7 linked regions of the Homo sapiens genome follow. The protein of the gene in region 4 purifies or fractionates together with the protein of the main gene of each other region. This does not show direct contact. Each region holds a gene or a part of one and is shown on either strand. Other genes may lie near its edges.

Region 1 (3,500 bases), on a different chromosome or scaffold from region 4:
GAAGCCCGGGCGTGGTGGCTCACGCCTGTAATCCCAGCACTCTGGGAGGCCGAGGCAGGCAGATCACCTGAGGTTGGGAGTTCGAGACCAGCCTGACCAACATGGAGAAAGCCTGTCTCTACTAAAAATACAAAAATTAGCTGGGTGTGGTGGCACATGCCTGTAATCCCAGCTACCTAGGAGGCTGAGGCAGGAGAATCACTTGGGCCCAGGAGGCGGAAGTTGTGGTGAGCCGAGATTGGGCCATTGCACTCCAGCCTGGGCAACAAGAATGAAACTCCATCTCAGAAAAAAAAAAAAAAAATTAGCTGGGCGTGACAACATGTGCCTGTAGTCCCAGCTACTCGGGAGGCTGGGACAGGAGAATCACTTGAACCCCGGAGGCAGAGGTTGTAGTGAGCCAAGATTGTGGCACTGCACTCCAGCCTGGGAGATACAACAAGATGCTGTCTCCAAAAAAAACAAAGAAAGAAAAAAGAAAATATCTAATATCTAAAATTAATGGATGAAGAGGCAGCAACATATTTGTATTTTTAGGAATATGTAGCTATGAAAAGAAACTACTGAAAAAGCTGAAAGTAGTTGCCTTTGGGTAGCATGACTAAAAGTGGGATCAGGCAGGGCAAAGAACTACTAGCTTTTGTTTTTTTAAATGTTTTTAAAATAATTTTTTGTAGAGATAGTGTCTTATTATGTTGCTCAGACTGGTCTGGAACTCCTGGCCTCAAGCGATCCTCCTGCCTTGGACTCTCAAACTGCTGGGATTACAGGTATGAGCCACCACACCCAGAGAGAATAATTGAGGGGTTTTTTAAAGAGGGTTTAATTTAAGAGAGGGTCTCGCTCTGTCGCCCAAGCAAGAATGCAGTGGCTTGATCGTAGCTCACTGCAACCTTAATCCCTTGACCTTAAGTGATCCTCCCTGCCTTAGCCTCCCAAAGCGCTGAGATTACAAGCATGGACTGCTGTGTCTGGCTTGGTTTTTGTTAAGAGACTTTTTTTTTTTTTTGAGACAAAGTCTTGCACTGTCGCCTGGGCTGCTGTGCAGTGGTGAGATCTCAGCTCACTGTAACCTCCAACCCCTGGGTTCAAGCAGTTCTCCTGTCTCAGCCTCCCAAATAACTGGGATTACAGGCATGTGCCACCATGACCAACTAATTTTATATTTTTAGTAGAGATGGGGTTTCACCGTGTTGGTTAGGATGGTCTCGACCTCCTGACCTCAGGTGATCCACCCACCTCAGCCTCCCAAACTGCTGTGATTACAGGCGTGAGCCACCACGCCCAGCCTTACCTCGTCCTTTCAATGTCCTCACATGGCTGGAGGCAGGGGACGCAGACCCTTACAGGTTGGCAAGATAAATAAAAGTTGGTTCGTCGAAAAGGTAATGATGGATTATCCATTTGCCATGGTTTGAGCCCCTTCTAGATTCAGGCCTGCAAAATGTGGTTAATCAACTGGGCTCCTGACTCACCTGGTGTATCCGGGAGCATGTCGCCTTTGGTAGACCTCTTTTTTAGGTGATGGGCTCCTAGTTTGGCCTGTCTCTCTCCTGTTCACCTTAGAGTTGTGCCTGTAGCAGACACAGAAGGCAAAGAGGAAAAAGCCTTTTTGGTCCAGGGGCTTACACTGAATCCCTCAAACAATGCAAGATGAGCTAATGGTCTTAGAGGTATAATCTAAGTGTGAGAAAAACAAAGGTATAGGGTTTGATGTTAGACTCACCCCAGAGCTCCCAAAGCACAGAATACACCTACAGATATGTGGCTTTGGATGCCTGAGCTTTACATTGAGGTGGAAAAAAAAAATGATGTAAAGGAAATACCAAAGCAAAGACATTTGGGAAAGTCAATGGACGGACATCACCAAAAGCAAAAACAAATGCCTGCTGGGACCAGGCCCCCACAGTCACAGGTTATTTCCCAGTGAATCCCACACTCACAGTTTGCTGGGTCTTGGGGACCGTGACCTTCTGCCCAGGGATCGAGACCTCCTGTCCCGGGACCCTGCTTCCCTGGTGCTCTTCTTGCTGGCATGTCTTGGGGGTGAGTGGGAGGAGCTTCTGGATCTGGAATGGTTCTTCATCCCATGCCCTCTCTTTTGCTCTGCTGTCAGAGGACCCTGAAGACCCTGGTTACGGTCAGAGTTCCGGACCTACATCATTAAGGAAAAGAGAAGTTATTCACATGGAAAATCCAGCTATTCAGGAGAAAACGCGGCCGGGCTCAGTGGCTCACGCCTGTAATCCCAGCACTTTGGGAGGCCGAGGCGGGGGGGATCACCTGAGGTCAGGAGTTCGAGACCAGCCTGGCCAACATGGTGAAACCCTGTCTCTACTGAAAATTAAAAAATTAGCTGGGCGTGGTGGTGGGCACCTGTAATCCCAGCTACTCAGAAGGCTGAGGCAGGAGAATTGCTTGAACTCAGGAGGTGGAGGTTGCAGTGAGCTGAGATCGCACCACTGCACTCCAGCCTGGATGACAGAGCGAGACTCCGTCTCAAAAAAAAAAAAAAAAAAAAGAAAAGGCAGTGAAACAGGAAATGTTACATAAGGAGCTCACTGAGCACACCAATATCATCACATAGAATTATCACAGAGAACTGTATAAACTTAGTTATCTGCAGAATCCCCTAAAAGAATCTCCTTCGGTCAGCCAGGTGCAGTCGCTCACACCTTGAATCCCAACACTTTGGGAGACGGAGGCAGGAGGACTGCCTGAGATCAAGAGTTTGATACCACCCAGAGCAACTAGTGAGACCTTGTCTCTACAAAATATTTAAAAATTAGCTCGGTGTGGCAGCACACGCCTGTAGTCCCAGCTACTCAGGAGGTTGAGGCAGAAGGATCCCTTGAGCCTAAGAGGTCAAGACAGCAGTGAGCCAGGATCACACCACTGCACTCCAGCTTGGATGAGAGAGAAAGACCCTGTCTCAAAAAAAAAAAAAAAAAAGATGGCTGGGTGCTGTGGCTCATGCCTGTAATCCCAGCACTTTGGGAGGCTGAGGCAGGCAGATCACGAGGCCAGGAGATCAAGACCATCCTAGCTAACATGGTGAAACACTGTCTCTACTAAAAATACAAAATAATTAGCTGGGCATGGTGGGCACCTGTAGTCCCAGCTACTTGGGAAGCTGAGGCAGGAGAATGGCATGAACCCAGGAGGCAGAGCTTGCAGTGAGCCGAGATGGCGCCACTGCATTCCAGCCTAGGCGACAGAGTGAGACTCCATCTCAAAAAAAAAAAAAAAAAGAAAAGAAAAGAAAAGAATATACCTGGCTTGGCTGGGTGCAGTGGCTCACGCCTGTAATCCCAGCACTTTGGGAGGCCAAGACGGGCAGATCACAAGGTCGGGAGTTCGAGACCAGCCTGGCCAATATGGTCAAACCCCTCTCTACTAAAAATACAAAAATTAGCCGGGTGTGGTGGTGGGTGCCCGTAGTCCCAGCTGCTCAAGAGGCTGAGACAGGAGAATCACTTGAATGCAGGAGGCAGAGGTTG
Region 2 (3,500 bases), on a different chromosome or scaffold from region 4:
TTTGCAGACTTGAAAATCTGGACTCCAAGTTCTTCCTACTATCCCCATCCCACCTGCTGGTCGCTCACCTCTGGCAGGGAAGAAATGGACTCGAAGCTCATGCGCTTCTCAGTACTGGTTGGAGACCGGCCACTGGGCCTTCTGCTGCTCCTGGAGCTTTCAGACTCCCTGCGCCCCTTTCCCTGCAGAGGTAGAGGTCAGTCATCAACTCCAAGACAACTGGAAGCTGATCCCTTCTGCATCCCAACACGGGCAGTGCCTCCCACGCCCCAAGGGGCTGGGCTGAGCTGAGAGCCAGTCTTGGACCTGAGCCATTCCAGAGCCAACCTGAACTGCCAGGCCTGGGGCTGCGGAAAGCCTTGTCAGGCATGCAGCTTCAAAAAACCTCAGCCCACCTTTCTGTCCCTCCAAAGTGGACTTGACCTTTCCAGCCCCACTGTGTGCTAGCTTCTCCCTGCCCCCACCACCCCACCCCACTTGTCATGCTTGTTGGGCGTTATATTGATTAGTGCCCAGTACTGGAACAGAGCATGCCAGGGGCTCACCAGGGTGTGACAGCGAGCGATGGTGTTAAGTGCTGAGGGGAGGAGTAAAACCAGGGCAGGGTGGGGTGAGGAGGGCAGCAGAGGGGGCCCTCGGGTGGGCATGCACATCCCAGGGAGCATGCAAGGAGGAGGGGAGATCGAAGAGACACCTCACCATAGCGCCCCGGGAGAAAAGTAAAGCGTTGGCCCGATAGTGCCAGCAGTGGAGGGCGGCCAGCAGGGAGCTGGCAAAGTCGGCTACCTGCTCCGCCACCGCCAGGCTCTCCTCCTGCTCCTCCTCCTCCTCCTCTGAGCCTGGGGGCTCCGGCCCAGCCCCCTTCTCGTTGCCTTCATGCCCTGTCAGGTCCTCCAGAGAGACCTGAAAGGCCTGCTCTTCCTCCTCCTCCTCCTCCTCCTCCTCCACCACCTCCTCCTCTTCCTCTTCCTCCTCCTGGGTAGCCCCTTCAGCCTCTGGCTGCAGGCCCCGAGTACGGGAGGGCTGCCCAAAGTCCAGGAGGGTTCCAGCACTGCCTGCATGCTGTTCAGAGCACAAGACCCCCTCGTGACCAGCCTCTTGGGCAACCTCCCGTCCTCCTGCAGGCAGCTGCGGGGGGGGAGCCTTCACACAGAAAGCCACACCTAGATGCCCAACTCAGGTTGCCACTGGGGTCCAGGGAGGGGTGGGCATTCTCATGGTGGAAAGGCTGGGACCTGGTCAAAACTTCAGAACCCAAACAGGCCTGCCTACTTGTCTACCCTAGGGAGAGGGAAATCTGAGTAGGTCCACACTGGGCAGGCCCCCAGCAGGGTGCTGTTCTAGGCAGAGGGTGCAGAAGGGCCCCCAGGGCAAGGCCCATGTCTTATTCATCTCTGTGGCCCTAAGCCACACAGCCTGGTACACAGTGGGTGCTTAGTAGGCATTTGTTGAATGAATGAAGACAATGAGGGCTGAAGGGGCCGGGGGCTGACCTGGGCAGTCCCACCCTCCTCTGTCAGCCAGTCCCCTCCTCCCACTGGCCTTTACCTTCATTCCTGCTGCTCGGGCTGCAGACATCACCACCGGGTCCCCCAGCACACGGGCGAGGGGCAGGGGAGGGGAGGGGAAGAGATCAGTAAGCAGGAAAAAGACCTCTGGACAGCTCCCTGGGGAAGTCCTCACTGGGGGCTCCTGCTCCCAGAACCCTCACCTAGTCTCCTGGGCTTTCAAAAGAATGACTGACAGAGCAGGGGCCCAGGGGCCACAGAGCAGCGCAGGTCTGTGCCTGTTGCTCGGCTCTCATTGTTTCCGGAGGAAAGGGCATGAGGCCTGTGCATGGGGGAGAGCTCCAGCCCCTCTCCTCAGCCAGCCAGGGGCGAGGCCCTCTTCTGGGGGGAATGGAGGCAGAGTTCCCTCTACACTATTCTGACAATCCTCCACCCTCAGGTCACACCCCAGGTTGTCGGCTGCTTCCCCTCCTCCCTCCTCCTCCCCCGCTCACTGGGAATGGCTGGCCACCTCACACACTCACCTTTCTCGTTGAGTTGCCTGAGCAGGTGTTTGGTTGGCTCTGAGGAGGAAAGCATGAGCAGAGTCAGCGCGGGCCAGGAAACTGCTGTGCCTGGCTGGGTCCCAAGCTCACAGCGCCACCAGCCCATCACCAGCTCAAAGTCCACTCTGGCTTGGCCCCCTGCAGTCATAGGCCCCAGGGAAGCTGCCTTCCACAGTGTCGGCGAGCCCCCTTGCACCTACGGACAGGGAGGCGGGCCCATCCATCTCCAGGACCCCCGCTGTGACTACCAGCCCTGCCGGAGCAGTACCACCCATGATGCAATGCATTAGGGCACCTGGCCCAGGGCCCTCGCGCAGGAGCCATAGGGAGGGGACTCAGTTCCATGCTACCCCCTTCAGACCAACTAGCAACATCTCCGGAGGTCCCTGGCTCCACCTCAAGCCCCTTGCCTCCCTGGCAATGAGCATATCAGCGCATCAGCTACACCCACTGCCAAGCCCCTCACAGCATCCCAGCTGGAAAGCAGAGGTCGCACCCGACTTTCTACGGCCCTTAAGGCTGGGCATCACGAAGCCTCGCTGACCGCTGGGGAGAGTTGCCCGGCTGTACGGAGAGTGACCAGGCTCTGGGGACAGGATACAAAACACATCCATTAGGCCAATGGTGTCATCACCGTGTACCCCAGCCTTTTTGAGGATACACCTGAGACTGGAGGGCAGGAATAAGAGGACCTTGTCTCAAGGTCCAGTTCTACAGAGCCTCGGCCTTCGCCTATCCATATCCTTGCCCAGCTGGCGGTAAGTGGGAGGCCCAGGGATCGCCATGATTTGCTACACACCTGGAGTCAGAAGGAAAGTCTACCAAGGTATCTTGCTGTTCCTCAGCAGGCAGGCCTGTTGAAGAACCTCTTTTCTGCTGACACACACAACATACATACACTATCTGTATCAATGTAAGTAAATGCCTAATTGTTTTTAAAGTGAAAAGTAGAAAATGTTCTATTCTTTCATTTTAAAACTTATCAAGAATATTTAATAAGTGAGACATAATTTAAATTAAACAATAGAACTTAATTATCAATAGAATACACTTGTCAGCTCATCTCAGCTCTCTGAGTGGGAAGCAGAAGCAGAAAAAACCTCAAGGAAGTCAGAGTAGATGGCTGAGCCCAGGCAGTAAAGTGCCTGCATGTGGCCCAAGTCCCTCCCTAGTGACTTTCCTGATCTTTTTGTGGTCTACAGTTCCCACAAGTTCAACAGATTGATTTCTTTTTTTGTTTTGTTTTGTTTTGTTTTTTTGCAACAAGGTCTCATCTGTCAGCCAGGCTGGGTGGGTGCAGGGGCACGATATCCATTCACTGCAACCTCTGCCTTCCAGGCTCAAGTGATCCTCCCACCTCAGCCTCCAGAGTAGCTAGGACTATAGGTGCACACCACCATGCCTAGCTAACTTTTTAATTTTGTAGAGATGAGGCCTCACTGTGTTG
Region 3 (3,500 bases), on a different chromosome or scaffold from region 4:
GAGCACTCCACCTGCCCTGGCAGCCCCAGGGGAGCCGGCAGCTGCTTGTAGCCCTATTACATATTGTACCCACACTACACACTCATCATGCTGGGCTCTAGGTACCAGACAGTGCCTCTCTTTTTTTTTTTTTTTTTTGAGATGGAGTCTCGCTCTGTCACCCAGGCTGGAGTACAGTGGCACACGATGTCAGCTCACTGCAACCTCCGCCTCCTGGGTTCAAGTGATTCCCCTGCCTCAGCCTCCCGAGTAGCTGGGACTACAGGCATGTGCCACCACGCCCAGCTAATTTTTTGTATTTTTAGTAGAGATGGGGTTTCACTGTGTTAGCCAGGATGGTCTCGATCTCCTGACCTGTGATCCACCCACCTTGGCCTCCCAAAGTGCTGAGATTACAGGTGTGAGCCACCATGCCCAGCCCCAGATGGTGACTCTCTAAAGGTGGGACCTGAGGTTTTTTTTTACCTTGTACCTCCCCATGAAGCAAAAGGATCACCATTTAATAGATACATGATAAATATTTACTGGTCAGCAATGAAGAGACCTAATTAAATAATTAGTAGACAACTCCTGGGTTGACCAGGGGCTTGAGAAGACCTCCTGGAGGTGGCAGATGAAAGGACACATGTGGGCAAGTTAGAGACAGAGGACAGAGGACCCAGTCAGGAGGGCAGGGGCAGCCTCAGAGAAATGAGGACGTCCCCATGCTCAATTCAGCAGTGCAGAATTCCGCTGCCAGGGCTGAGCAAGGCACATAGCCCCAAAAGTGCTCCTAAGGGCTCCTCTGGGACTGCTGAGCTCGGCCCCCCCAGAGGCTGCCCCTGGGCTGGGCAAGACAGCCTGGCTGTTCCTGGCCTTGTTCTCCACAGCAGATATTCTTAATGTCCCCTGCAGTCAGACATTGTGGAGATCATGATCAAAGTGGTAAACCCTTCTTCCAGAAAAATGCACATAGGGTTAGATGACTTTGGGAGTTCACGGTCTGACTAGACCCCACTTGGGATCCCCCCATCATAAGCTGTAGAGGTATCAAGGTCATCATTATTTTGAATGACAAGAATATCACTTTCCAGAAATGAACATTTAGCATCATCATGAGCCATGTGTTACCTAAATAATCCAGTCACAAAAGGGTTGTTTTGGTAAGTTGGCTGTTTGTTTTCCCCTCAGAAACAATTTTACACACCGATTACATGCAGATTCCCAGGGGCAACCGCAAAAGCCCATTTAATAGGATGCACCTGAAACATAAAAGCACGCAGTGCTATTTGTATTTCCCTGAGCCTGCTCCCAATGGGACAAGTGCAGCCCGCGATCCAGTGGGGACAGCAGGCAGGCCGCTCCCTCTAGGCAGCGACCCCCACCTCAGCAGTGAGAGGAAGAACTCCAAGAGGGACCAGGGAGAGCTGGGGCAGGAGTCTGTGCCTCCCAGGCACTGACATTCTTGAGATTGTCACAAAAGCCTCTCCTCCCCTTCCCCACACTGATGCATATACTCCACATGTATGTACAATTCCAGAGGGATCCTGGACTACCTGAACTTGCTCACAGAACTGGGGTTAGGAGCCCAGGACAAAGGAGACCACCGGACTCCAAGCCAATCACTGTCCAATGGGAGGCAAAGCGGAAGAACACGGAGAGCTGATGCACAGGGGCCCAGGCTTAGATGTCTTTCCACACTGGCCCACATGTCAGGAGTAAATGGAATAATCTGCAGAAGGTTCTACTGACTTAATATGAGGTATATTAAGATTAAAAAATTATTTTTTTGCTTCTCACTAAAATAGAGTGGAGTAAACCATCCTTTGGGGCCACGGTCAGGATGAAAAAGTTCTACAGCTCTTAAAGGGATCTCCCTGCCCCGGGGGCAACCCCAAGCTGCTGCTCCCTGCACCTGTCCAAGGTGAGCCCCCCACTCTCCTGCTTTCAGGCTGACCTCCCCTGACTGGGGCAGAGTGAGGGGGCTCACCCTGCATGAACAAACTGCAGGAGAAGGAAGCTCAGAGACTCTCCTGTGGCGGTGAGTCTATCGCCCGAGAGTTCAACCTGCTCTGGAGAGATGTGAGTGGTCCATGCAAAGTCCCCAAAGGTCCACTGCCCTGAGACAGACTGACTCAGCCCAGCAGCACATAGTGGAGGACACACTGGGAGGCCTCGGGAAATGCAGGCATGAGGCCCTGGGTGGCCTCCAGGGAGGTGGGAGAGGCAGGAAAGAGAGGCTCCCTTGACCACTCTCCCCATACCCTCCATGATATGGATGGTGCTGTTAGGCCAGCTGCTGGCAGGGCCCATGGTCAAGATGGACAGTGGGACTGGAGTAGGAATCAGGGGAGGGAAGACAAAGAAAAGCCAGCCATTGCCATTCACTGAGAATCACTGTTGCTTTCTAAAGTGACCCTGTTGATGTGGCAGGACTCCTGAAGATGAGAATTCACTGTGTGCTGGTAGGGAGGTTTACTTCATCCCTTTATCAGGCTCCAGGCCTTTGATGCCACTGCCCTGCCAGGGTGGCAAGTGGGTTTCATTCCACCTGCCAGCTTCCATCAGCGGTGGGCCTGAGACAGAGGCTGAGTCTGAGAACTCGCTCACTGGGAAGAGGAGCTGTGACCAACTTGCAACGTCTGCCACAGGCATGGGAAGCCAGCTGGGGTCAATACCAGGAGACCTCCAGTTTCCGCAGCTCGCACACATGGCTGTCTCCTGGGCTTTGGCCTCAGCTCCCAGAATTCCCCACCTCTATAAGGAAAGCACTCGCTGTCTGTGCTGGGCTTCCACACTCTATCGCAGCAGCCCCACCAGACACATGACACAGCTCAGTAGGTCCGTTTTACAGTGCCAGAAATTGTAGCTCTGGAAGACGAAGTGACAAATCCCCCAGGGCCATCACCACCTGCCACCTCTTCCTCCCAGCCCCTGCTCTGATGGATAGGCAACATCCACCCTGGACAACCCCTCGCAATCCTACCTTTGTTCTGGCCCCTGCTTTGAGTCTTCCCAGTTCACTGTAGCCCCATCGAATGATCTGTCTCTCTTCTAATTACAAAATACTTCTTATTCAGATATTTCTATGGCATTTAATTTTGTGTTGCTTTGTGACTGTGATATTGCTGTCTTCTGATATTTAAGGGCAGCCGGGGTATATTTTCAAAACATCAATCAGATCAGATCCCTTTGCTTAAAACTTTACAGTGGCTTCCTATCACAGGTAGATTCAAATCCAAACTTATTATGGCTACAGACCCCACACAAGCTGAGTCCTGCCTACCTTCAACCTCAACTCAGGTCACTTCTACTGCAGCCTCTGGCTCTCCTCTTCTCCCAACACACCAAGTTCATTTCTACCCCAGGGCCCTGGAACATGTTCTTTCCTACCCACCTGGAGCATACATACCAACATCTTCCCCCAGGTCTGTATGCGGCTTACCCCTCTTTACATCAGCCACTCAGGCTTCCACTCAAATTTCACCTTCTAGGAGACCCTCCCTGACCACCTATCCCAA
Region 4 (3,937 bases):
GATACCATGGGTTGAGAAGCACATTCCTTTATCCTAGTTGGCTTCTTCAAGTGCCCTGGTGAAGAGCCACTGCTATAGAATGAAGCTGCCTATGATAAGATCCAGGAGTGTGTATGAATGAGGTAGTGACATGGAATACTGATGCTGAGAAAGGTGGCAGACACAGAGTACTTCTGCCCTGACTACTAAAGTTTATATTCTTTTTTTTTTTTTTTTTTTTTTTTTTTTTTTTAGACAGAGTCTTGCTCTGTCGCCCAGGCTGGAGTGCAGTGGTGCTATCTCAGCTCATCGCAACCTCCACCTCCCAGGTTCAAGAGATTCTTCTGCCTCAGCCTCCTGAGTAGCTGAGATTACAGGCATGCGCCATCACGCCTGGCTAATTTTTGTATTTTTAGTAGAGACGGGGATTTCACCATGTTGGTCAGGCTGGTCTCGAACTCCTGACCTCGTGATCCCCCTGCCTTGGCCTCCCAAAGTGCTGGGATTACAGGCGTGAGCCACCGCACCCCGACCTAAAGTATATATTCTTGCAAATGGAATACACGTCATTGTGACGTGAGTTCCAGTGACTGTTAGGAGCATAAAAGTCCCTAAATACTTTCTTAGTAGGCTGTACTGATGCTGTGGGTTGCTTGAGGAAGCAATAGGGCAGTGGTGCTCTGCCTTGGCTGCACTTTCTTTTTCATTTTTTTTAGATGGAGTCTCGCTCTGTCACCCAGGTTGGAGGACACTGGTGCGATCTCTAGTCACTGCAACCTCTGCTTCTCGGGTTCAAGTGATTCTCGTGCTTCAGCCTCCTGAGTAGCTGGGATTACAGGTGCCTGCCACCACGCCTGGCTACATTTTAGTATTTTTAGTAGAGACGGGGTTTCACCATGTTGGCCAGGCTGCTCCGGAACTCATGACCTCAAGTGATTCATCCACCTTGGCCTCCCAAAGTGCTGGAATTACAGGCGTGAGCCTTGGCTGCACTTTCTAATCACCCAGAGAGAAACTGAAAGTCCCAGTGCCCAGGCCACACCCCAGGCCAGTTTCTGCAGACTCTGCTGGGGAGTTGAAGGCATGGGTATTTCAGGTGATGCCAAGGTGTGCCTGAGATTCATAACCATCAACCTCTAGGAGGTGGTCAGTGATGCGTCTACCTGGCAAGAGCCCTGACCTCAAGCACAGCCGGGCTCAAACCTCTGCCCTGCCACCTGCTGACTGGCAGTAAGTCCCTGGGCATTGGCTTCAGCTGCTCTAAGTCTCAGCTTTCTCACCTTCCAAGATCAGCTTTCTCACCTTCCAAGAGAGGAAGATTGCGTCACAGAGTCATTCTGAAACTAAATGAGAAAATGCTGTGGTCCTTGTGGGGGCTTGAGGCACGTTAGTTCCCAGCTCTTGTCAAGAAGGCTGGAGAAGGAAGAATGGAAACAGAACAAACCAGGAAGGGAGCCCCTGACAGAGCGAGGCTAAAGAGCCCTGTACATTATCCAACTAGGAAATCGAAGGAGGAAGGAGAAAGAAGACAGAAGAGTCAACAGCCTTAGTCATACTCCTATGCGATTTATGCTGAGGGACATTTTATACCCATTGCAGGCCTTATTTTGCATCTTCTACGCAAAACAAACAGCTCAGGTGCTCCTGGAAAGGATGATTGTTCTTTCTCTGAGTAACTGACAACAATCCTCGACTCTCTAATCTGTTTAGCAGCTCCCCAGGCACATTGGGCAGCACAACCTAAGGCAGCGGCTCAAATCTTAAGGAAGCCCAAAAATACCCCGTGTGCGTTGTTACTGGATGCCCCGTCCCTTACGGCTCAGGAGATGTGTTTTTGATACACCTTGCAGCGGCTTCTGAAATGTGATCCATCCACTTAACACATCCTGAGAAGCTGCACTACGGGGAAAGGGGATATTCCCAGCAGCTCTGAAAGACTCGAGACAGGCAACCCAGCAAACCCTAGTTCCTGGCAGGCCTCAGCAACGCAGACACTAGCAACTCTGTGGTTCAAAAGCAGCCTTCCGAAAGCATCATTTTCCCCAGTTTATCAGGTCCAGGGTGATGTTTCTCTTCAGAAATCCTGCAAACCTTCTGAAGCCTTACCATCAAAAGCCTCGCCAAGGAACGAAAAGAAGCTTCGGCTGCTGACACCCAGGACCAAGGAGCAGAAAACCAGGCCCGTGAGAAGCTTCATGGTGCTGAAATGAAAGGAGAAGTCAGGCAGTCGCCCACAAGACTGGCACAGCTTCCCTTGGGACTTATATTCCGACGAGAGCCTGGTTATTTCCACTGGATCTTATTAGAGTCTCAGTGGCTCATCTAGGAAACCTTGCAGCAGGACCTCACTCAGAGCCAGAAGCCCTCGGTTCTGAACCCATCAGCCCTGAAGCCTGACTGCATAAGAGGATGCCAACGTGGCACTGATGGAGGAAGGCAGGAGTTACCACCAGACTGTCACTCCCTCAAGTAGCCTATAATTCCCCATAACGCATTTACCGTGTGTTCCCTCTGCCCCGCACAGAACTCAACATGGGATAAACACAAAGCAGGATCATTATTTTTTATTCTTAAAGCCTTTAGCACCTGGTATTCCCAGGTGTTCTCCCATCCAAGTACTACCAGGCCCGACCCTGCTTACCTCTCTAGATCAGAGGAGATAAGACACCTTCAGAATGGTATGGCTGTATGCCCCAGGATAACTATTTTTTTTAAAGGAAATGATAATCTTGTTGGGAAAGAGAAAACAGAGTAAGTTTTAAAAATCACTCCTTGGTGTGCTCCTCACCTGATCTGTGCTGTAGCTGAGCTGCGGGTCCCTGCCTGCCAGGGAGCGGTGGCTGCTATTTATACTGAGCCTTCCCTGCTGGTTTCTTGGGAGCGAAGAAAAGCTGGATGTGGTCCCTGGGGAAAGTCCCTGCAGGTCATTTCCCCTACAAAACGGTCTAAGACAAGTTCCTGGATGCCAGTGGTTTCTTCATCCCGGGTCATTTATCCCAGTTGTGCAACCTGAGGGAACAAGATGTGCCTGGCAGCTGTCAGGGCAGGAGACCAGCTCTGCTCCTCAGCATTGAGGGGGCTGAGGCTGCGGAGTTGAGAGTGGGAGCCCCGTGATGGCGGCACCTGGGCTGCTGGAAGGTGTGAAGTGAGGGCAGCTTTGAAGCCAGCTCCTGACTCTACCAGTCATTTCCTCAGGATGGGCTCTGCTGGGCCACATGGCAGATGCCTCTGAAATGAAGTCCCTCTGAGTTCATATCTAAAGCTTCAAAGCTGACAGACTAGGTCCAGCACAGTGGCTCACTCCTATAATCCCAATGCTTTTGGAGGCCAAGGCAGGAGGATCACTTGGGGTCAAGAGTTTAAGATCACTCTGTGCAAAACTGTAAGATCTTGTCTCTACGAAATATAAAAATAAATGGACCGGGTGTGGTAGTGTGCACCTGCAGTCCCAGCTACTCAAGAGGCTGAAGCGGAAGGATTGTGGGAGACCCAGGAGGTCAAGGCTGCAGTGAGCTATAATCACGCCACTGCACTCCAGCCTGGTTAACAGAGCAAGACCCTGTGTCTAAAAGAAAACAAAATAAAACTAGCAGCCTACCCCTGCCATGTCTCATGTGTGCCCTGGAAGGCTCCTTCCACCCCTCAGTCTAGATATCCAGAGATTTACCTCCTCAGCACAGAAAAGCCCTGCTCAGCTGGCCTAGTCAATTAGGAAATTAGGAAGGAAGGAAGTGGTCAGTACCAGAGCCCAGCAGGGCTGAGGCCAGGACATGCAGAGAGGCTGGTGGATATAGCAGCAACTGTGGTTTCTTCTTCTCCAGTCCGTTTTCACTCTTTTATTTTTTCTTTCTTTCCTTCCTTCCTTCATTTCTTCCTTCCTCTCTCTTTCTCCTTCCTTCCTTCCTTACTCCCTCTCTGTCTTCCTCCTTCCTTCTTCTCTCTTCCTCCTTCCTTCCTC
Region 5 (3,500 bases), on a different chromosome or scaffold from region 4:
TTTTCATGGCTAGTAGAGTCCTCACAACAGCCTTCCAGGGTAAGTACTGTATTATTATTAGCCGCATGTTCCAGAGGAAGAAGCAAAAACTGAGCACCTAAGTAAACCTGCCTGGGACCACCCAGCTAAGAACTGGTGGCGTCAGTCGGTCTCCAGTGTAGAGCGAGATAACAGATGAGTGGATGGGCCACAGGTCCTGGGTGGTGAGGGCGGCAGCAGCTTTTTGATCTTAAAAATACAGTTTCCTTGTCACCTGAGAGCTCTCTGAAAGCAGTGTGTGAGCTGACTTTTTGGATCAACTTTACTTTTCCCTTCTTTTTAGGCAATTGAAGATGAAGGTGGTAATCCTGACGAAATTGAAATTACCTCCGAGGGAAACAAGAAAACATCAAAGAGGTCTAGCAAAGGTATGGAGGATTTCATAAGCAAGTTTCATGTTAAGTGCTTTCTTCAAAACGAATACATTGCTAATGTGCCTCGTTTACTTGTCTGTGTGTTGGACTTGTGAACCACTCTGAACTGGGAGCCTTCAGCGAAGCTTTGCATTTTCTTTCAAGATCTCTCTACTGTGTTTTGTTTTCTTGGTATCTGGGAATTCCAATGGAGGATGGAAGGAGTATTTGTCCTTTATTCATTTTCCTCTGTAGATTGTCAGCGGTCCTTAAATAAGGAGTCTTTTGGGAGTCAGTCACAGTGGCGTGTGCCTGTAATTCCAGGCGACTCGGGGCTGTGGTAGGAGGATCACATGAGCCTGGGAGTTCAAGACCAGCCTGGGCAACATAGCAAAACCCAGCTCTACAAAAAAACTTTTAAAGGCCCGGTGTGGTGGCATGCATCTGTGGTCCCAGCTGCTTGGGAGGCTGAACCGGAAGGATTACTTGACCCCAGGAGGTTGAGATCAGCTTGGGCAACATAGGGAGACCCCCATCCCCACCAAAAAGAAATTAGCCAGGCATGATGGCATGCACCTGTGATCCCAGCTACTTGGGAGTTTTAGGAGGGGGATCACTTGAGCCCAGGAGCTCAAGCCTGCAATGACCTAATGATTGCACCACTGCACTCCAGCCTGGGTGACAGAGCAAGACCCAGTCTCTCTTAAAAAAAAGGGGGGTGGGGGCGGGGCACAGTGTCTCTCACCTGTAATCCCAACACTTTGGGAACCCAAGGCAGGAGAATGGTTTCAGTCTAGGAGTTTGAGACCAGCCTGGGCTGCCTCTATCCACTGCCAAAAAAAAAAAGTACCTAGGCGTCGAGGCACGCCTGTTTTCCTAGCTACTTGGGAGGCTAAGGCGGGAGGATCATTTGAACCCAGGAGTTCAGGGTTGCACTGAGCTATCATGGCACCACTGAACTCCAACATGGAGTCCAAAAAGTAGGACTGCCTGAGCCTCCTATTGCTTGGACTTGGAGAAAATAACATCCCTTATAAACAGCACTTGGCAAAAACAGAATTGTCACTTTAACATTTCTTTTAAAAGCAGCTTATACAGTAAAAGTCACATTCCACATGACATGACTCTCACCATCTTACCGAAATCTCTCTTGCCCATCCCCCACACCCTGTGCTTTAGTCAGGCCCCAAACACGTGATTTACTCTCCTGGTTCTCTGTGACTTCGCTCCGCCCACCCTTCCCCATCTGTCTGCCTTAGAGACCTAGTTCCTCAAAAGACAACTGATCCATCCCACCAATAGCAACTCGTCTCCTTGGGTCCTCTGTCCTCCCGTGGCATAGTTCCTTACCCCTTGGTTTAATATTTATGTCATCTTGCCTTCTGTCAAGAGCAGATTGATGAGGACTAGGGCTGTGTCTTGTTTATCTTTCTTTCCCCTTCAATGGTTTAACTTGGTAACACTCAACTATTGGCTTAAGAAAGAATCAGCTGAGGCAGGGCGCCGTGGCTCACACCTGTAATGCCAGCACTTTGGGAGGTTGAGGCGGACTGGTCACCTGAGGTCAGGAGTTCGAGACCAGCCTGGCCAACATGATGAAACCCCGTCTCTACTAAAAATATAAAAATTAGCCAGGTGTGGTGGCGGGCTCCTGTAATCCCAGCTACTCAGGAGGCTGAGGCAGGAGAATTGCCTGAACCCAGGAGGTGGAGGTTGCACTGAGCCCAGATCGCACCACTGCACTCCAGCCTGGGCGACCGCAAGACTCCATCCCCCTAAAAAAAAGAATCAGCTGAAGCTGGGCTTGTAGACCGAATGTTCTCTTGGTTCATGTAGAGTTTTCCCTATCTGAAATGCTTGGGACCAGAAGGGTTTCATTTTTTGGATTTTGTGCGGTATTTTCGTACGCATAATGAGATAATCTTGGGATTGGGGCCCAAATCTAAACAAGAAATTTGTTTCTTATACACCTGAAGATAATTTAATACCATATTTTTTATAATTTTGTGCATGAAACAAAACTTTCACTAATTCCACACATCAGGTGTGGAATTTTCTACTTGTGGCAATATGTCAGTGCTCAGAAGGTTTCAGTTTCAGATAGGGTTGCCCAACCTGTAATTGAAGGCCTGGTTCTCAGGGCCCAAAACTAAATGAGATAATAACTAATACTTGGTGGTGAAGTACTGGGTTTAAATATCTGAGAGTCAGGCCCCAGTGTCAGCCACAGTGTTTGGGGTAAGTGCTGGGAGAACAGCAGAATGAAGTCACTTCTGTGGCTCATGATACATTGCGTGTTTTTGCCTTTACTCAAGTATACTTCTGCCAAGGCAAAGAGTCCTGGAAAATCAATGGAGAAAGAAATAATAAAAGCAAAAAACAGAGCCTGTGGATCTCCTTTTTTGTTTTCCTTTTTCTTCTGATAAAAGCAAATACTTGTACTACAGGCTTTTGTTGCTGTTTTTGTTTTGTTTTTGAGGTGGGTTCTCACTCTGTCACTCAGATGGAGGGTAGTCGCGCAGTCATAGTTCGCTGCAGCCTTGAACTCCTGGCCTCAAGCAGTGCTTTCACCTCAGCCCCACAAAACGTTTAGATTTCAGTTGTGAGCCACTGCGCCCGGCAGGTTTTAAAATACGTGCATGGGAGTAAAAAGCAGAAGTTGTTCACAGTCGGGACAGCCCACTACTAAAAGTTAGGCATACTTCTCCAGACTGTGTGTGTATGTACAATGTTTAAAAGTAAACTTAGGCCTGGGTTACAGAGCAAGACCCTGTGTCTAGAAAAACAAAAAGTTAAATAAAAGTCAATGAGCTGGGCATGGTGGCACACACCTGTAGTCCCAGCTACTAGGGAGGCCAAGGTAGGAGGATTGCTTAAGCCCAAGAGGTCAAGGCTGCGGTGAGCCATGAGTGTGCTTCTACACTCCAGCTTGGGCACAGAGTGAGAGGGGGAAAAAAGTAAATATATAGGTATGTGCACACACCTGTATGCATATTTTTTTCATTAAAAAAACCCGTGATCTTGCTATACAAAATCTCACTGTTTTTTAACAGGCTAATAATCTTCTGTATGAATAAATACACAATTTAGCCCATCAGTCTTTTTATT
Region 6 (2,639 bases), on a different chromosome or scaffold from region 4:
AAGCTCCCGTGTGGAACCTGCCCTCGGTGACCCGATGGCGCCCAGCCGCTGCTCACCATGGGTGAGTTTCCCGTTTACACTCCCGAGGTATTTACCATAACACCCAGCAAGCGACAGGACAGGAATGCTAATGAAGTCTCACAGGAGAGAACACTTCACACCAACTGATCAGAGCACTGCCACCGTCTGTGCTGCCCAGAGATTCAGGAGAAGCTTCGGGTGTCCTGGGACACTCGGCACAGCACCGAGTCAAAGTCCCTGGCAGAGCTGGAAGTGCCTCTCAGCGCGGAGGGAGGGATGGAACGGGGGAGCACAGGGGGCCAAAACCCACCCTGTGGCGCTGGGCAGGGTCCGAGGCAGCCCTGGGCCAGGGCTGGAGACAAGACAGGACACTCGGCTCACAGAGGAAAGCAGGGCAGCAGCCGCAAAGCAGTCCTGCCACCAGCCTCCTCACGGCCAGCCCAGACGGCAACAGGACAAACAGGCAGGGGTGACTGCAGCTGGCCAAAGAAACTAGAGAGGCACCCAGAGTCCTCCCAGACAAGCCCTGCCCCCCACCAATGCTGACAAGGCTCAGAACAGCACCCCCACTGCAGTGCTGGTGAAGGTGGCTTTGGACACCTGTGGAGGACCTGGCCCAGTGTCCTCAGCCCTGAGTCCTGGGTGGAGGGTCCTCCTAAGTGATTCTAATAGGCAGGATAGGGTTGAGAAGATCCACCCCAGACCAACTGGGGGTCAGAGAAAAAACCCGAGGAAGACACGTGTCAAGAGGCAACGTGGAGGCAGGGGCGAGGCTGCTCTACCACGGACGGGGCAGGACTAAGAGCTTCAGCGCTGTCTCTCCCAGTGTGTACGCAGCCCATGATCGAGACATTCACAACTGCAGGCGACCCCCAGCTCAAGAATGGGGATGGGCCATTCTGGGCGACCTGGACAGCTCCATCCCTGAAAGCCTGTTCTATGCTTTCTTCTTGAGAACCTGGACTTTCTGAGTCAGGGGTTTCAAATGGCAGGACCCCTGGTAGCCCATCCTAAAGCTCCCCTAGCTGAATCAAACCTTGGGGACGTGCCTGGCCAGGCACCAACCTTTTCCCAGGTTAGGACAGATGCTCCCCACCCGGCTGGGGCTCACCCACTAACCTGGGGGGAGGGGGCAGCCCCCGGCCTTCACTCAGCCTCTTGTCGGAGCCGTAGCCCCCCCAGCCATCACGGGAGTCCCGGCCGTGGCGCTCTGGGGGTCCTCCGTGGCCATGGCGGTCATCTCCATAGTGCTGGAAGGCAGGAGAGGAACAGGGTGACACTGACCATGTCACCCACATAGGCCCACCTTCCGGAAGGCCTGTCCACTGCAGGCCCCAGGGTGGCAGGTGGGGCGGAGCTGAGAGAGGACTGAAGGGTGCAGTCTCAGCCCTGCTGGGCCCTGCTTCACTGACCCTCTGCTCCCTGGCTCCCCTCCTCGCACCCCTACAGCTGCATCACTGCCCCACCTGAGCTGCCCCAGGAGCCAGGGCACCCTGGCATTACTGCCCTCAACAGCTCTGCTCAAGATCCACTAAGACGTCACCAAACCCTGTCTTCCCTGAGAAGTTGGGCGCCGCCTCCTTTCCGATAACAGGAGGGCCCTCGGGTGGGTCAGCCCCCCTGTGCTCTGGCAGGGCCACAATTCCGGCCTCCCTGGCCAACCAACTCTGCACGGAGCAGCCAGCAGCCAGGAAGCAGGCGGGTGCTGCCTGCTGTTACAGGCCATTACTCTGCCGCCCACCTCCCACCTCTCCACCAGGCTGCTGCTTTCTCAGAACTCACACCCTGCCACCACGCACGGGGCACCCGCATGGCACCACAGAGACTCAGGGACCATTCTTGTGGTCTTCAGCCCCCCGTGCCCACCAAGCACGGACTTGAAACATGGGGAAGCCCGGGCTCCCCCATCCCCCCGACCCTGGCACATGTGGGCTAAACGACAACCACCATTTGGGTTCTTGGGGGACCCCACAGGCACTAAGACCCAAAGGCTCCCTGAGCAAGTGGACAATGAAGAGACACATGAGGTTTCTACCGGATACAATGAAGAACAAGCCCAACATATTTGAAAATGACAGAAACTTGAGCATTACAAAACAATCAAATATTTGCGCTTTTTTTTTTTTTTTTTTTTTTTGAGACGGAGTCTTGCTCTTGTTGCCCAGGCTGGAGTGCAATGGTGCGACCTCGACTCACTGCAACCTCCGCCTCCCGGGTTCAAGCGATTCTCCTGCCTCAGCCTCCCGAGTAGCTGGGACTACAGGCACTCGCCACCATGCCTGGCTAATTTTTTGTATTTTTAGTAGAGACAGGGTTTCACCATGTCGGCCAGGCTGGTCTTGAACTCCTGACCTTGTGATCCACCCACCTCAGCTTCCCAAAGTGCTGGGATTACAGGCATGAGCCACCACGTCCGACTAAATATTTGTACTTCTAGTCGCTGGCCAGAACCCACACTTGCATACCCGCCACACGTGCTGACTTGGTTGCCACCTCTCTGGGATCAAGCGGCCGCCTGGCTAGAAATGGTCCGCTATGCCTGCACAGCAGTACAGTGGCCCCAGGGCTTGGCATCGGGGCTCTACTCACCTGCCCATCCCGGTGGTCTCCCATCATTG
Region 7 (3,710 bases), on a different chromosome or scaffold from region 4:
TGGCAGGCTGTTTGTTTGCAGAATGAATTCCTAATAGTCTATTAAGTAATGTATGATAGTGTTTGTGTCACCTAGTATTTAAATATGTAAACATTTGATGCTTTTATGTTCTATTGTCACTGCAAGTGTATGCGTATGAATTTAGAAGCCCTAGATATTCTAATAAAATAGCAACAGATTTGTTGGAATTAAAGTTTGCAAAATCTAAATATAGTATATGCTCAACTTAAAAACAATACCATCAAAAAAGACATTAAAGCCATGCACGATAGTACTATGTCAAAGGAGACAAAATATGCATATAAAAGATTTTTTAAAAGGAAGGCATGGCTGATACATTTCCTGTAGATTCAACCACATTTATAGCTCCAAAAATTCTCTTTAAGTTGTTCTGTCATCCAAACAGTAAACCCAGGATTTGTGTTCTGAAATGCTTACAAAAACATTTTAGGATTTTAAAAGGTACATATTTATCATAAAATATGAAATAAAGTATCCAATTAGTGTTTTAAAATTTAATTTTTTAGGTTTTACTTTACCCTTGATATCCATTTTCATTCATTTCTCCAAAATTCTGACAAAGACATCTGCACATATAGTTACATCTCTATTGCTAAGTATTTTTAAAATCTTACATTTGACTTTCTTTGATCTTGTCTCTCAGAAAATGAGAAACAATTTTGATATTGAGAAATAATTACATTTGCTAAATTTCACATCATTAGCAAAAATGGTGCTCTAATGATCATAATCTAAGTAGTTCTTATAGAAGTGTCTTGACTTGCTTCTAAATGATAAGAATATCAGGGAATTCGACCAAAGTGGTTCCACCTCAATGCACTTCTGAAATACCCTCAAAATAATTTCAAAGAGAAAAAGTACAATTGAGCTATAAAATACAGCTCAGAAGAAATTTGTTCTCCTGAGATATTTGGTTTTAAATTCATGATTAAATCTCCCTGTGAAAATGTCAAATAGGAGAACCACATACAAACATAAATTTTCTATTTATAAATCAAGAGACATTAAAAGACAATCAGCTTCAGTTATATTGCTAATAAAACTCAAAATTAATGTTAAGTGGGACCTATGTAAGAGGGCAGAAAATCAAGGTATATTCAGGATTGTGACTGGCTGGGAATATTGTACTACAGTTTTATAATCAGTACAACGATACATATTTGTTTGTGTATATGAAATATAAAGCTCATACACACTAATACACATAGGAGGGCAAGAGCACATCTTCTTACATCTGTTATTCAATGCATGTAGTTCAAGACAATCAAGAGTTTCCTTTTTTATGCCATCAGACACTACTTACAGAGATTCATTAGTTTCACACGATTGATGCTGCATTTGACACTTATATAAGAAAATCATGAAAATTTTTAAATATTAAAAATATAAGTTCTACATGCTTAAACCTAGATTAACCAAAAACAATTATCAGATGAAAGGCATAAACTTATTTTTTAGTAATCAAGTGATATAACAAGTTTATTTGAAGTCTCTCATTTATTTAAGGTTGCAGAAAATGCAGCTGACAGTCCTGTACTTTGTACCTTCTCTAAGAACTGTGCCTGATGTAAACATTAACCAAGTCTTCATAGTTGATCCTCTGCTAAGAGGACCTATTAGTAAAAACTAACCAAACAATACACAAAGTTAAAATCCAAAAATTTTAATAAAAGCAGCCAATGTGGTTTTCACATATTGAAAACCAAATTCTAAATTAACATGGTTTCTGTATCTCTTTAGAGGTTAATAATTTGAGTACTCTCAAGTAGTGTAAAATTTAAAACAAAATGATAACTTGAAAATTATACTAGATGATCTCAGATCTCTGATTTTTGAAAGATATTTTAAAGAAATAAGACTCTGGTCCCTTTTCATCTATTTCTGCTAAAAATTTAACACCTTTAAAAGATTTTTGATATATAAAAATTATCAACATTTTGTTAAGCACAAATTAATCAAAGCCTGAATTCATCTGATATAGTTATAATCCTCCCAACGTGTATAAAAAGGCCTAGTCATTGCAATGTGAAGTTAAAACATACTCAAATAATTAAACTATATTAAAAATATATAAATAAGTTTAAATTACCATTGCTTTCCTTTTCTACAGAAAAAAATGTATATACAATTCCCCTGATATGCTGATTCTGTAGTCTCTTCACAAATATTAGGTCCTACAAGGTTTCTCTTATCTATAATAAAGCACGGTGGGATAGCAGATGATGAGGTAGAAACAATAGCAGAACAAAGGTGGGAGAAGCCTCAGCCATGGTTGAGTGGGCATTAAATAGCCAAAGTGAATTCATTTATGATCTTTATCCTATTTGAGCTCTGTTTCTTGTAAGGACTGTTCATTACATTTTCTTACTCTAATGCGAATCCAAGGCCAGGTGCAGTGGCATATGCCTGTAATCCCACCACTTTGGGAGGCCGAGGTGGGCGGATCACCTGAAGTCAGGAGGTCAAGACCAGCCTGGCCAACATGGTAAAACCTCGCTCTACCCAAAATACAAAAATTAGCCGGCCGTGATGGCCAGTGCCTGTAGTCCCAGATACTCGGGAAACTGAGGCAGCCCGGGAGATGGAGGTTGCAGTGAGCCGAGATTGCACCATTGCACTCCAGCTTGGGGGACAGAGCAGGACTCTGGTCTCAAAATAATAATAATAATAATAATAATAATAATAATAATAATAATAATAATGCCAATGTGTACTTATGACCCATAACTAGAGCATCATATCCTAACGCAATGAAATTTAAAAGTCTATGATTTTTTAAGCTAATACAGCTTTTAGCTTCCATAGCCACAGAAAGAAAACTTTTTGTCAATTTTTCGTAAGAACATACTAGCTGAGTTAAAATAATCCTTTCTTCGCAGAAGCTATCCTTGCTCTTTCTTCTGGTTGGCAACATGACCAGTGATAGTATAGATCACAGCTTCAGCTTTCCTAATCATTTCTTAGATATTTTTTATTCTAATGTAGCTCTTCACTATAAAATTGTTTACTACAGGAACACTCTACAACACAAGGAGCAAGAAAAGCTTCCTCCATAATCTTGCAAAAGATAACTGGTTTGTGTTCACTTGCAGGCCACAAAGTATATTTAGGTTGCTATAAATTTTTTGAACTTAATTATCAATTATGTTTACTTGTTCCAGTTTTTGGTGGTATAACCCAATGTATATTTTTTCTTTCCTAATCTGAAAGTTTATAATGTTGCTTCTCTTTCCTTATAGTTAAAAATGCTATACATGTTAGAAATTATGCAAATAAACTGAGTTTCTTTGTTATGAATTTTTAAAACAATTTTCATGTCATTATAGGAAAAAAGTTTTTGCTTTCAAGCTAAAACTATTATTTGAGAAATATTCTGAGTCATCTCAACCCACAACCCTACAAACGTATTTCTTTATTTAATAATTATTTAGCATCTATTTATGGGCCAGATACCGTTTTGGGTGCTGGGAATCAACTGTTGGACCAAACCAAACACAGACCCTGTTCTCATAAAGCTTACAACCTAGTGGATAAAGCAGCTGTTAACCAAATATCACATATGTAACGACATAGTATACTCACTAAAAATTCCCTATGAGGAAAATAAAGCTAGAGAACGTAGTTTGATAGGTGAAGAACTATAGAGCTGCCAAACATTCCAACCAGTCTAGAATGGCTTGGTATAGACC

The links.
Region 1: the proteins of SAA1 (region 4) and CWC25 purify together in Homo sapiens (affinity purification with mass spectrometry; one large-scale study listed by BioGRID and IntAct). This does not show direct contact.
Region 2: the proteins of SAA1 (region 4) and PLEKHG3 purify together in Homo sapiens (affinity purification with mass spectrometry; one large-scale study listed by BioGRID and IntAct). This does not show direct contact.
Region 3: the proteins of SAA1 (region 4) and PDIA5 purify together in Homo sapiens (affinity purification with mass spectrometry; one large-scale study listed by BioGRID and IntAct). This does not show direct contact.
Region 5: the proteins of SAA1 (region 4) and SAFB purify together in Homo sapiens (affinity purification with mass spectrometry; one large-scale study listed by BioGRID and IntAct). This does not show direct contact.
Region 6: the proteins of SAA1 (region 4) and SAFB2 purify together in Homo sapiens (affinity purification with mass spectrometry; one large-scale study listed by BioGRID and IntAct). This does not show direct contact.
Region 7: the proteins of SAA1 (region 4) and PHF3 purify together in Homo sapiens (affinity purification with mass spectrometry; one large-scale study listed by BioGRID and IntAct). This does not show direct contact.

What each region holds. Positions count from the first base shown.
Region 1 is NC_000017.11:38,804,822-38,808,321, forward strand, and holds part of CWC25 (pre-mRNA-splicing factor CWC25 homolog), read right to left. Parts: intron 2,156-3,500; coding exon 1,944-2,155; intron 1,575-1,943; coding exon 1,476-1,574; intron 1-1,475. UniProt on the Homo sapiens protein: Involved in pre-mRNA splicing as component of the spliceosome.
Region 2 is NC_000014.9:64,735,424-64,738,923, reverse strand, and holds part of PLEKHG3 (pleckstrin homology domain-containing family G member 3), read right to left. Parts: intron 2,072-3,500; coding exon 2,033-2,071; intron 1,569-2,032; coding exon 1,549-1,568; intron 183-1,548; coding exon 69-182; intron 1-68. UniProt on the Homo sapiens protein: Plays a role in controlling cell polarity and cell motility by selectively binding newly polymerized actin and activating RAC1 and CDC42 to enhance local actin polymerization.
Region 3 is NC_000003.12:123,140,025-123,143,524, reverse strand, and holds part of PDIA5 (protein disulfide-isomerase A5 precursor), read right to left. Parts: intron 1-3,500.
Region 4 is NC_000011.10:18,265,127-18,269,063, reverse strand, and holds the start of SAA1 (serum amyloid A-1 protein preproprotein), read right to left. Parts: upstream 2,801-3,937; 5' UTR 2,768-2,800; exon of another isoform or gene 2,621-2,767; intron 2,181-2,620; 5' UTR 2,177-2,180; coding exon 2,086-2,176; intron 1-2,085. UniProt on the Homo sapiens protein: Major acute phase protein.
Region 5 is NC_000019.10:5,626,083-5,629,582, forward strand, and holds part of SAFB (scaffold attachment factor B1), read left to right. Parts: intron 1-322; coding exon 323-407; intron 408-3,500. UniProt on the Homo sapiens protein: Binds to scaffold/matrix attachment region (S/MAR) DNA and forms a molecular assembly point to allow the formation of a 'transcriptosomal' complex (consisting of SR proteins and RNA polymerase II) coupling transcription and RNA processing.
Region 6 is NC_000019.10:5,589,138-5,591,776, forward strand, and holds part of SAFB2 (scaffold attachment factor B2), read right to left. Parts: coding exon 2,611-2,639; intron 1,272-2,610; coding exon 1,141-1,271; intron 1-1,140. UniProt on the Homo sapiens protein: Binds to scaffold/matrix attachment region (S/MAR) DNA. Can function as an estrogen receptor corepressor and can also inhibit cell proliferation.
Region 7 is NC_000006.12:63,722,802-63,726,511, reverse strand, and holds the end of PHF3 (PHD finger protein 3), read right to left. Parts: 3' UTR 501-3,710; downstream 1-500.